3 separate regions of the Homo sapiens genome follow, and all the other regions are linked to region 3. The links come from fine-mapping of genetic effects on gene expression. A gene starts in region 3. Each other region holds a variant in brackets. All regions are shown on one strand. Distances are from middle to middle. Region 1 overlaps TXNIP (thioredoxin interacting protein). Region 2 overlaps ANKRD35 (ankyrin repeat domain 35). Region 3 holds the start of LIX1L-AS1 (LIX1L antisense RNA 1).

The links. PIP is the estimated chance that this variant, and not a neighbour inherited with it, causes the effect. A credible set is the group of variants that fine-mapping cannot tell apart.
Region 1: its variant is the best candidate, but not a certain one, in a credible set for the expression of LIX1L-AS1 in T cells (TOPMed, PIP 0.61).
Region 2: its variant is the best candidate, but not a certain one, in a credible set for the expression of LIX1L-AS1 in lymphoblastoid cells (GEUVADIS, PIP 0.59).

What each region holds. Positions count from the first base shown.
Region 1 is chr1:145,988,806-145,992,967 of GRCh38, forward strand. It overlaps TXNIP (thioredoxin interacting protein), which reads right to left. Exons shown (of 8, transcript NM_006472.6): 8 at 3,630-4,162. Among named protein-coding and RNA genes, the nearest start is that of TXNIP, 5.7 kb to the right of the region's middle. RefSeq lists an enhancer at 3,903-3,982. The variant A/C (reference allele first, on the strand shown) is at 1,710.
Region 2 is chr1:145,878,237-145,882,398 of GRCh38, forward strand. ANKRD35 (ankyrin repeat domain 35) reads right to left here. Exons shown (of 14, transcript NM_144698.5): 2 at 1,022-1,152; 3 at 155-243. Among named protein-coding and RNA genes, the nearest start is that of ANKRD35, 5.5 kb to the right of the region's middle. RefSeq lists an enhancer at 1-595. The variant A/G (reference allele first, on the strand shown) is at 2,390.
Region 3 is chr1:145,924,658-145,928,815 of GRCh38, forward strand. LIX1L-AS1 (LIX1L antisense RNA 1) reads left to right here and starts at 2,174. Exons shown (of 3, transcript NR_147182.1): 1 at 2,174-2,289; 2 at 2,407-2,812. It overlaps RBM8A (RNA binding motif protein 8A), which reads right to left and starts at 2,827. Exons shown (of 6, transcript NM_005105.5): 1 at 2,703-2,827; 2 at 2,361-2,420; 3 at 2,152-2,229; 4 at 1,825-1,961; 5 at 1,384-1,520; 6 at 1-1,270. The coding sequence starts at 2,769. The coding sequence ends at 1,225. It also overlaps the pseudogene GNRHR2. RefSeq lists enhancers at 1,763-2,962, 1,902-2,841, 2,644-2,693, 2,934-3,083.

The DNA of each region.
Region 1 (4,162 bases), 64 kb after region 3:
AAGAAGACCCAGAATATTCCCCCACTTAAGTGGGGAAATAGCTAAGCCACTCCCCAAGGAAGTGTACTGAAGCAAGCCTGTACGCGGAAAATGTCCTCGGGTGAGGTAGAAGTTGTATACACAAGGCAAAAAGAAGTAGAGTGGAGTTTTTGTGCTGTAAGAGAAGGATAGGTTTCCTCTGGGGGAACAGCTCTAGCTGCTTACTCCCTTAGATTTTGATGTGGTATTCAATATGGCAGTCACTAGTCACTAGTCACTAGTCACATATGTGACAGTCACTAGTCACAGAAAGCTAAAGTTTAATTGAATTGAACAAAATTGGGCCGGGCACAGTAATCCCAGCACTTTGGGAGGCTGAGATGGGCAGATCACCTGAGGTCGGGAGTTCAAGACCAGCCTGACCAACATGGAGAAACCCCATCTCTACTAAAAATACAAAATTAGCCAGGTGTGGTAACGCATGCCTGTAATCCCAGCTACTTGGGAGGCTGAGGCAGGAGAATCGCTGAACCCAGGAGGTGGAGGTTGCAGTGAGCCGAGATCACGCCATTGCACTCCAGCCTGGGCAACAAGAGAGAAACTCCATCTCAAAAAATAATAATAATAATAAATAAATAATTAAACAAAATTAAAAATTCAGTTACAGGCTGGGCACAGTGGCTCACACCTGTAATCCTAGCACTTTGGGAGGCTGAGGTGGGAGGATCGCTTGAGCCCAGGAGTTTTGAGACCAGCCTGGGCAACATGGCAAAACTTCATCTCTATGAAAAATACAAAAATTAGTCGGGCTTGGTGCCATGCACCTGTAGTTCCAGCTACTAGGGGGCTGAGATGGGAAATCACTTGACCCTGAGAGGTGGAGGCTGCAGTGAGCAGAGATCATGCCACTGCACTCCAGCCTGGGAGACAGAGCAAGACCCTGTTTAAAAAAAAAAAAAAAATGTGTGCACAGCACTTTGGGAGGCTGAAGTGGGCAGATTGCTTGAGCCTAGGAGTTCAAGACCAGCCTGGGCAACATGGTGAAACCCTGTCTCTACAAAAAATAGAAAAAATTAGCTGGGCATGGTGGCATGTGCCTGTAGTTCTAGCTACTTGGGAGGCTGAGGTGGGAGAATCACCTGAGCTTGGGAGGTCAAAACTGCAGTGAGCCAAGATTGTGCCACTGCACTCCAGCCTGGGAGACAGAATGAGACCCTATCTAAAAAAAAAAAAAAAAAGATAAGAAAAAAAATCAGTTTATCAGTCATAGTAGCCACATTTCAGGGCTAGTGGCTACTGTATTGAAAATTTCCATCATCATAGAAAGTTCTATTTGGACAGCTGGATAAAGGATATTAAGGGTATCCGGAGGAGATGCCCATGTTCTGGCCCTTCCAGGATCAGATCTCTTTTTTTTTTTGGAGACAGTCTTGCTCTGTCGCCCAGGCTGGAGTGCAGTGGTGCAGTCTGGGCTCACTGCAACCTCCACCTCCTGGGTTCAAGTGATTCTCCTTCCTCAGCCTCCCGAGTAGCTGCAATTACAGGCGTAAGCCACCGCGCCTGGCCCTAGGATCAGATCTCTAAGAGGCCTTGGGTATAAAGTTATCTATCCTTTCGAAGCCATCCCTCTTCTCATATTGGGTACTGGTAGCCCAACTGTGCACACAACCAGGCTCATGTACTCCATGGTCTCTCCATTCCTTTGTCCTGCTCTCTGGCCTGCTCTTATC[A/C]TTGCTTCACCCCTCTAGGCCCTGGAAAACAAGCTACAGAAAAAACTTTTCCATCAACTTTGACCTAATTTCCTGGTCACAGATTTGAAGGAGAGGAGCCACTAAATTCTTGCACAGGTGAGAAAGGGGCGGAGAGTTCAGGTGAAAGTCACCCTGGCAATAGGGAGAAATAGAGACTGACACTTTGGTAATGAAAGAGAGACAAAGAGAGGGAGGAGAGTGCTATGGAAAATGAAAGATAAACGAAAAATGAGGATTGAAATGGAAAAGGATCTTTTAAATCTCACTTTCTGTTAAATTCACATTGATTTTAGTTTGCTTATTATTTATTTATTTTTGAGACAAAATCTGTCCCCCAGGCTGGAGTGCAAGTGGTGCAATCATAGCTCACTGTAACCTAGAACTTCTGGGCTTGAATGATCCTCTTGCCTCAGCCTTGTGAGTAGCTAGAGCTACAACACCCCACACTGATTTCATGTAGAATTTCCAGGAGCCTGTTATTTGGAATTAGTTTGTGGAAGTCCTCAGAAAAATCAATTCCCAAATAAGGACCAGGACCAGATCTGTGCAAATATTTAAATTGGCCATCCCAGGGTTTCTCCACCTGTCGGTTCTTTAGGAATGAAAATCACTGCTGGGCGCCATGGCTCACACCTGTAATCCCAGCACTTTAGGAGGCTGAGGCGGGTGAATCACGGGAAGTCAGGAGTTCGAGACCAGCCTGGCCAACATGGTGAAACCCCGTCTCTACTAAAAATACAAAAATTAGCTGAGTGTGGTGGCTCATGCCTGTAATCCCAACTACTCAAGAGTCTGAGGTAGCAGAATCGCTTGAACCTGGGAGGCGGACATTGTATTAAGCCAAGATTGGGCCACTGCACTCTAGCCTGGGAGACAGAGCAAGACTCTATCTCAAAAAAAAGAAAGAAAGAAAGAAAGAAAGAAAATCACACCAATTAAACATGGGATTGTGGTATTACTCTACTACTATTACCCTACAAGGAATAGGAACCATCAAATCATCTAAGGGATGAGGGTGAAGTTGAATAGTTAGCAAACATTTACTGAGTTATGTGCTTGGTTAGGAACTGTGAAAATAAAAAATGGTTAGCTGCCTCCAAAGAATTTAATACTCATAACTCTATAACCTCTTAAGTCCTGAAGTTATCCTTGTTAGTATATAAATCAAGTTTACATTGGGAAGAAACCCTATGATAAAACCATATTGTAAAAAGGGGATCTTCAGCTGAGTGTGGTGTCTCACGCCTGTATTCCCAACTCTTTGGGAGGCCAGGGCCAGCAGATCACTTGAGCCCAGAAGTTTGAGGCCAACCTGGACAACATGGCAAAACCCGAACTCTACAAATAATCAAAAAATTAGCTGAGCGTAGAAAAAACAAACACATACACACACACACACGCACACACAATTAACTGAACGTAGTTGTGTATGCCTGTAGCCCAGCTATGTGGGAGGCGGAGATGGGAAGATCACTTGAGCCCAGGAAATCAAGGCTGCAGTGAGCTAAGATCATACTACACTCCAGCCTGGGTGAGTGAGACTGTCTCAAAAAAAGGAACCGCCACTCTTTTCTTTCAAATGCCCTCATAAACATCATCTCCCTGTATTTCAAGAACCCATGAACTCCAAAACTGAAGGAATTTAGTAATGATTACCTATGGATTTGGAAAACTAGTTTAGACAACCGGAAAATCCCAGTATAGTTGTTCAGTGAATCTGAAACATGCCTCAAACGGTTTCCCTCTTCACCTTCTAGCCCCCACTCTGCCGACATTCCTTAGGGTCCATAGGGAGTGTTTTCTCCACAAGGTTTTCATTAGTGTGGATTGTTAAGTAGAGGAAAACTCCTTTAGACACACCTTCTTTCCAAAAACTTTTCCAAAGCCATCTCACAGACATTTTTTTTTCCATTAAAAAAACTTTATTTTCATTTTTTACAAAGAATATCCCCATCTGGGGTAAAAATATATCTGGTTAAGTACAAAATATAGTCTTTACCATACAAAAAGATACATAATACAAAAACATGAAACCAACCATCTTCAGCCCACACTTTCTGGCTGTAATAACTCTCAGAAAAGGGTGGAGCTCAGTGCTCTGACACAGGACAGTGAACAAAGTGCTATGGCTGAGAGTGACTGACCAAGTGCTGGCAGCTGCAGTGAGGGGCCAATATCCCTATCTCCTAACACAGGGCAGGAAGGGGGTTCAAAGGGCTTTTATGAAGACCTGCCCTCTAGTTTCTCATGGCAGTATTTGGAGGTTCTGATCACAGGGTTGGGCATCTTGATCAAGAGTTCCTCCTTGGGTTTGAAGTCACAGTGGGCAAGGCTGACAGCAGCAACCCTTTCACATGATTTAAGCGTTAGAATTATATAATTCTGTACATTGGGGCAATCTCAAAAGTAGTAAAATTTTTTTTGTCTTTTGG
Region 2 (4,162 bases), 46 kb before region 3:
GGAGGGGAACTCCTGGAAGGATGCTGGCCAGAACTTACTAAGGAGAGAAGCAAGGGGCCACAGTAGGAATGTCCAGCAGGGCCCAGCACCGCCCCCGACTGCTGCTGTACCAGGGGCAAGCAAGCAGCGTGGCCCAGTGCTCCGGCTCACTCACCATCCTCATTCTTGCTGTTGATGTCAGCCCCATTTGCAAGCAGGATAGTCAGACATTCTGTCAGGCCTTTGGAGGCTGCCAGATGAAACCTGCCAGAATCAAGGCCGAGAGGCCAAAGGATAAAGGGACCAGGGATGAGGAATGGGAGAATCTTGATAAGCCCTTCTTGCTATGCTCCCTACCCCAAAGCCAATCCTAAAAGCAGGAAAAGAAGCTCCCCTAGCTTGAATTTCTGAGAAAGAGAAGTCTATATGGCCTCCAATCACAAAGGATGCTAAAAGCAAGGAAGAAATAAGAGCTACAGGTCTCAAGGAATCTCAGACTATTGCAGGGGTGTCTAGGGAACACATAATTACCTGCCTCTCTGAGCACAGAACCTTAGCGGAAGTGGAAGTGTCACAGAAAGAGTCAGCCAGAGCAGAGTGAAGGCTGGACATTCGAAGGCTTTGGGTAGAGACAAGGGATAACATTTCCTTTGACTTAATCACTACTCCCTCTAGCCATGTGACTCCCATGCTACCACTTCATTTCAAATTTCCCATGCATACACACCCTCCTACTTGTGCAATGAAGAAACACTCTACTTAGTGTATATATTCATTTTCTGTTTGTTTAATGGGCTTTATGTACTTTACAAGTCAGTGGTGTCAATCTGGGTTGTGCAATGGATGGAGCTCAGGAACAATATTTTCTTTCCTCACTTTGTGTAGAACTTATATGTAGCAAAAAACTATTGATATACTTGCTAATTAAGACAATGAAAAGAGCTCTGAAGTTGTAGGCATTCCCTGGTCCTATGTTATATTGGATTTGGGGGCTTCAAAAGGGAGCCACATGTAAGGGGCAGGGGCAGGAGGACTGACTTACGGGGACTGGCCATTCGAGTCAAGCTTGGTGGGTCGGGCAGATTTCCTGGAGGCCAGGGCAGCCACGCGTCCCACATCCCCCCTGTGCACTGCCTCCAGCAGCTTCTGATCATGGCGGTTCCATCTCTCCACCTGGTCCAGAGCCACAGGTTGTGTGAATATAGGGCATGAGGGTAGTGTGGAGAAAGAAAAGAGGCAAATGGTTAGGATGCCAAATGAGAGAAAAGGAACATCCCTTTTTCTCTTCCACAAGTCACACATCCTAGATCATTTAGTCCTTCTTAGGTGGGCCTAGCTAAATCTTAACCAGCTAATATGCCACCAAGAACTATTGCTGGTTATTTCCAGCCCTGAGCCAGAAGGACCCTGGACCACTGAATTAAAAATCATTTGAGTGCTGAATGCACAGTATTTCAAATGTCCTTTTGTCATCATGATTAGAGTTGTTGTTCAGTGCCCAACCTCAGAGCAATCCTTTCCCTTTTGCTCTCTAGGTCTTGCTGGAGCAAATGGAACCAACGTGACCACTTTTGAGGACTCATGTTGCCTCTCACCACCGCCTCCACCCCTGAAACCCTGCTGCTCTGCTTTTTGTTGTCAGTTGTTTGAGAAGTACATTAAGGCACCGAGCTTCAGGTTACAGCTAGGAGTTCCAATACCTAACCATTCCACCTCTTTTCATTGGCTTTGGGCCCCACAGTTAAAAGAGGAAACTAGAGTTTCTGTTTTCCCATATCATATCTAGGCCCTTTGGCGACCGTCTCTCTCCTTTCCATGGCAACAACAACCAAAAGGCAAAGAGGTTTCTAGTTATGTTTGAGGAAGCAGCAAGAGGTAGCTCCCCTTCTCCTCCCTCCCAGTTTCCCTGGCAGGGAGCAGCTGTCTAGACAACAGCCACACCTGGGCATGCATTGTTCTATCATTCCAGCTTGGGTTTTGTGGGTGGTAGGGTAATTATAATAATTGAAGTGTTATAGGGCATAAAAGAGACAGCTATGTAAAAACACCCAGGGCTGAAAGTACAGAAAAGCCTGGTTTTGTCCAGAGAAGGGAATGAAAAGGAAGAGACAGATGCAAAGATCTGTGGTCTGATGTAAAGGCTGCCAGACAAATATTTCGCTGGCTGGCCTGAGTTTGGGACCTAGTTCAGCTACATTCTCGGCTATGTGACCTAAAGTAAGCCATTAAACACCTTTAACCTGTTTCCTCTTCTATAAAATACGGCTAATAACAACTACCTCATCATGCTGTGACTATTAAACAAGCTAATATATACAAAATCTCTTTATAAACTGTAAAGAGCCATACAAATATATGGCATCCTTGTAACAAAACAGGAAGTAGTGGGGTGTTGGTGGTGGCACATAGC[A/G]TTTTATAAGGTATAATCTCAACAAGAGGCTATAGAAAGGGGTGAAGAAAAATAGGGTCTGTGGAAGCCCAGTAACTCATTTTCAAACACTGTTTACGTAGCCAGGGCAAATTATTAATCAACCACAGGAAAGCTCTAAATATCCAAACCATAAAATTATCTAAGGTAGATGGATTCTGAGGTAATACTCCTGTACAGAAGTTGTAACTTCTCACAGTCCTTTCACATGCTATTTCAATTAGTCTCTCAACATCCCTGGAAAGTAGCTAGGGCTATTATTCCATCTCTTTGACAGAAGAAACAGAAGTATACCAAGATTAGATAACCATTCAAGATCACGAAAAAGAGTGGCAAAATTGGAATTAGAATCCAGGCCATGGCTGGGTGCGGTGGTTCACGCCTGCAATCCCAGCACTTTGGGAGGCCAAGACGGGTGGATCACCTGAGGTCAGGAGTTCAAGACCAGCTTGGCCAACATGGTGAAACCCCGTCTCTACTAAAAATACAAAAAATTAGCTGGGGGTGGTGGCCGGTGCCTGTAATCCCAGCTACAGGAGACTGAGGCAGGAGAATTGCTTGAACCTGGGAAGTGGAGGTTGCAGTGAGCTGAGATTGCACCATTGCACTCCAGTCTGGGTGACAAGAGCAAGACTCCATCTCAAACAAACAAACAAACAAAAAAAGAACCCAGTCCACCTGATGCCAAATCCTAGCTCTCCCCACCAGACCACACTACTACAAGCTATAGAAACAGGTTTACTTATTTCCAGATAAACAGTCTCAAGTTGCCTCCAGGGCAAAGCCACCCACCCTCAGACTCTACTGTCTCATGGAGTCTCCAAACAGGTTAACTCTCAAAGGACAAAATAAGCAAAATGACTCCTTCACATACTAACAGACTCTGACATGTAAGAACGCATTTTCTAATGGCCTTTGGAGACCAGGTCACCCCCAGGAAAGCAGAGAGCTAGAACTATGCCCCACGACAGGGTGCTGCCATCAGCTGACGTCAACCTGCAGTTCTCGAAATGTTTCAAGTCTTGACTCTAACACTGTCTGCCTCTGTGAATTTAGGCATGTAACAACATCTCTGAACCTCAGTTTCCTAATACTATAACAACCTATAAGGCATCTAGCTCGGTGTCTGTCACATAGTAGATGCACAATCCATCCTTCCTGAGCACATTTTAGATGTTCCTGGGCTCAGAATTCTCCAGCCAGGAGAGTGGAAGGGATCTTGCTGATACTAGCCAGCGAATAACAGCCAAGCTGTACAGATGGTAAAGATGCTTCTTAGCAATATAGATACTTTTCTTTCCCCTTCTTTTTTTTTTTTTTTTTTTTTTTGAGACAGAGTCTTGCTCTGTCGCCCAGGCTGGAGTGCAGTGGCGTGGTCTCGGCTCACTGCAACCTCCACCTCCCAGGTTCACGCCATTCTCCTGCCTCAGCCTCCCGAGTAGCTGGGACTACAGGCGCCCGCCACCACACCCGGATAATTTTTTGTATTTTTAGTAGAGACAGGGTTTCACCATGTTAGCCAGGATGGTCTCAATCTCCTGACCTCGTGATCTGCCCTCCTCGGCCTCCCAAAGTGCTGGGATTACAAGCGTGAGCCACCGCGCCTGGCCCTTTCCACTTCTTTTTATTTCTTTTTTCTTTTTCTTTCTTTCCTTTTTTTTTTTTTTTTTTGAGACAGAGTCTTGCTTTGTTGCCCAGGCTGAAGTGCAGTGGCATGATCATGGCTCACTGCAGCCTTGACCTCTGGGCTCAGGT
Region 3 (4,158 bases):
ATATAGTCCCAGGTTGGGAAGGGGAAAACGGTTTGCAACATTCTCCTCCTTGTAGGAGGCGAGCTCTGTCTCACTAGCTATGCCCCTCCATCAATTCACCCTATACTCAGATCAGAAGCTGAGTGTCTGAATTACAGTATATTTTCTAAATTCCTAGCCCCTGCTGGTGAATTTGCCCTCCCCCGCTCCTTTGACAATTGTCCCCGTGTTCGTCTCCGGGCCCTGAGACTGGCCCTGCTTATCTTGCTGACCTTCATCCTCTGCTGGACACCTTATTACCTACTGGGTATGTGGTACTGGTTCTCCCCCACCATGCTAACTGAAGTCCCTCCCAGCCTGAGCCACATCCTTTTCCTCTTGGGCCTCCTCAATGCTCCTTTGGATCCTCTCCTCTATGGGGCCTTCACCCTTGGCTGCCGAAGAGGGCACCAAGAACTTAGTATAGACTCTTCTAAAGAAGGGTCTGGGAGAATGCTCCAAGAGGAGATTCATGCCTTTAGACAGCTGGAAGTACAAAAAACTGTGACATCAAGAAGGGCAGGAGAAACAAAAGGCATTTCTATAACATCTATCTGATCCTAACAGAGTATGTAGGAACAGAATAGTAAGTCTTTAGTGCCATAAGATCTTAACATCTCACTTCTACTCCTGCTCTCCTAGTTCCCCCCAAAAAAGAAATACTGACCAGTGTCTCTACTTTAAACCCTACCTGAAACTTGAGACTATGTCTAATATAGAAACTCACATAACTAGCCCAGGTAACACAGCAAGACCCCATCTCTACAAAAATATTAAAAATTTAGCTGGGCATGGTGGCATGTGCCTGTAATCCCAACTACTAGGGACAGTGAGGCAGAAGGATGGCTTGAGCCCAAGAGTTTGAAGCTGCAGTGAGCTATGATCAGCTGCAATCCACCCTGGGTAACACAGCAAGACTCTATCTCAAAAAAAAGAAAAAAAAGAAATACATAGAGTTCAGTCCCTAGAAGTATCTTCACAATGATCCATACAGCCTTGCTATGCTTTAGAACTTTCAATTTTAGGACAGGAAAGTAACATTAAATGTAGAAAACAAAAATGGAACATTTATTCGCAACTCAAATACTACGCATATACGGTAAGAGATTAAATATAAACACAGCAAGTTCCACCCCAGTCCTATTTGTCCAAGGCTGCATGGTCAAATGGAATCTTGAAGAGAACACCTGGACAACAGAGGACCTGTCAGCGACGTCTCCGGTCTGGACTTCTGCTGCGTCTTCGGCCACCTCTAGGGAAAAAGAAGCAGGGAGAGGAGTCCATTAGAGGGACATAATACTAAGTCCTCATTCTGTTTCGTTCGTATTCCCTTCACCCAGACAGTATTTGCCCTCTTCATTTTACCTCCTCTTGCCTTTTGGTGGACCCCGAACAAAACACCAGTCAACGCTGATGGGCTGTCCCATCAAATCCTGGCCATTGAGTCCCTCCATAGCAGCCTGGGCTTCCTTGTATGTTTCATATTCAACTAGAGTATACCCCTGGGGAAAGTGAAAAGACAGATATGAAAACCCTCCTATTTCCCCAAGTATCACTGAGTATCTTTTTCCTCAAATCTAAACTCAGAAAAATCTACACACTTTAAACAATGAATGTACATCATATATCTCTACTGTATATATACATCATCTCCGTTTCTGTCTCTTTGGCGTGTCTGACAAAACATAGATTTCCAATGTCATTTTATTTCAACTTTGCTCTTGGCCAACCACAGCAAACACAGAACTACGAATGCTACCTAAGGCTTATGAAAGAAAGGAGGCAATAAAGTGTCACTTAGGATACCTTCAGATATCCTGTTCGCCTGTCGAGGTTGAGATGAATGTTTTTAATTTCCCCATATTCTGCGAATTTGTCGTGTATGTCTTCTTCGGTGGCTTCCTCATGGACTCCAGTTACAAAGAGAATCCAGCCTTCAACAGCTGTTGGGGGACGGGGGGAAGTTGTATGAGTACATGAGAGACACTTTAAGCAGGCTCACAGGAATAGAGTGAGTGCGGACTCAGATTGTTTAAGCTATCTCTGAACCCATTCCTACTGCGTTTAACTATTTTATTGGTTTCTAACTACTACCACAGACACGGATACCTCACAGGTTCCATTATTACTCACAGCGTTGTGGTCCGGGTTCATCGCCATCCTGCTCCACGCTGTCATAATCCTCACGCATCCGCGCTCGGGACCCCTCTTCTATAAGGGACATACACGAGATCACCGAAAACTCCTCCTTTCTCCCATTGTTCCTATGAGGTGGGTGGGGACTCCAAAACCCGTAGCTCCTGCCCTACTAGGCCACTCTACCCCATTTTCCCCACACTCACCGGAGCCAAAGCCGCGACCCTTCCGTTTCTTCGCTTTTTCTTTCAGTTTGTGAATGCTCTCTGGAACCCCAGAAGATAAAAGAATAAGTAACTATGACAGTCATTTGTAACAATCGTCTCTTTCCCAATACACTACCAGCAAGCCGACCCACACCGCCTCCAGTCTTAGTGCCTTCCCGGTCACGCCCTCCCTTCTCCTGAAGGGGGCGGAATCTCTAATCCACCCAAGACCCGGTTCCTCGATTCCCATCCTTACGACCGAGGAAAAAAGAGTAAATTTTCCTATTATAGCCTTCTCTCGCACCTTCCCCGCTTCCCACCAGCCGTCTCCACTGTCCTCACCGTCCCCATCCTCATCCATGGCGAAATCTTCGCCCCCAGCCTCGTGAAGATCTAGCACGTCCGCCATCTCGCCTTCGATCGAGATCTCGTCTGTGCCGCTCAGACACTAGGTACCTCGGGAAACTGTCGCAGAGGGGAAAGGTCGCCAGTCAAGCTGACCAATCAAAGGCTAACTCTAAATCCCTCCCTCTGCACGGTAAAAACACGCAAATTGGGGCGGGCCTAGTGCGGAAAGATACCGGAAGTGTTTCTGTGGCCATCTTGAACAGATCGCAAGCTAAATCATCCATCTTAGGAGGTACAGACTACAGGGGGCCGTGGCTTCCTCTTAACCGCGGCAGCTGCTGATAAATACTGTACTATTAACAGTGAGGCCCGGCGTAATTTCCTTATTAGAGGGCTTCTTTACGTCTCTTCATCCCAAACTGGGAAATGGTAATTGAAGAAACCCTTTTCTTTCAAAAATCCCAGGCCTGTACCCTGTCTTTAGGCAGCGTGGTGTATGATAGGAGCGTTTTTAAAAAATAGTTTGATCAGCAGTGAGGGCATAAAGAGCTGCTTCTGGAACCTGCAGCACCAAATTTCTCTTCAGGAAACTAACAGACTTGGTTGCAATACGGTTGGTGAGACAGATATCAATTTTTTTTTTAAATATAAAACTCCCTGCCTGTAATCCCAGCTACTAGGGAGGCTGAGGCAGGAGAATCGCTTGAACCCGAGAAACGGAAGCTGATTAGCTGGGCGTGGTGGAGTGCACCTGTAATCCCAGCTACCTAGGAGGCTGAGGCAGGAGAATCAGTTGAACCCGGGAGACGGAGGTTGCAGCGAGCCGAGATCTTGCCACTGCACTCCAGTCTGGGGGACAAGAGCGAGACTCTGTCTCAAAAAAAAAAAAAAAAAGTGAATAAGAGTAAAACGAAAAATAAAATTTAAAAAGCGATTAGGAGACACTAATTCATTCTCCACAGTAGGTACTGTGATCATTTTAAAAATCAGTTGGTTACATACCTACTAAAAATCCTTGTTGTTGTTGTTTTGAGACGTAGTCTCGCTCTATCACCCAGGCTAAGAGTGCAGTGGTGCAGTCTCGGCTCACTGCATCCTCTGCCTCCCGGGTTCAAGCAATTCTCCTGCCTCAAGCCTCCTGAGTACCTGGGACTACAGGCGCCCTCCAAGCCTCCTGAGTACCTGGGACTACAGGCGCCCCCCCCCACACACACACACACACCCGGCTAATTTTTGTATTTTTAGTAGAGACGGGATTTCACCATGTTGGCCAGGCTGGTCTTGAACTCCTGACCTCAAGTGATCCACCAGCCTCCACCTCCCAAAGTGCTGGGATTACAGGCGTGAGCCACTGCGCCCGGCCTAAAAACCCTTTTTGTTAGAGGGGTTTGGTTATACTACCCAGGCTGGCCTGAAACTCGCCTCCCAAGCATCTGGGACGACAGGGGTG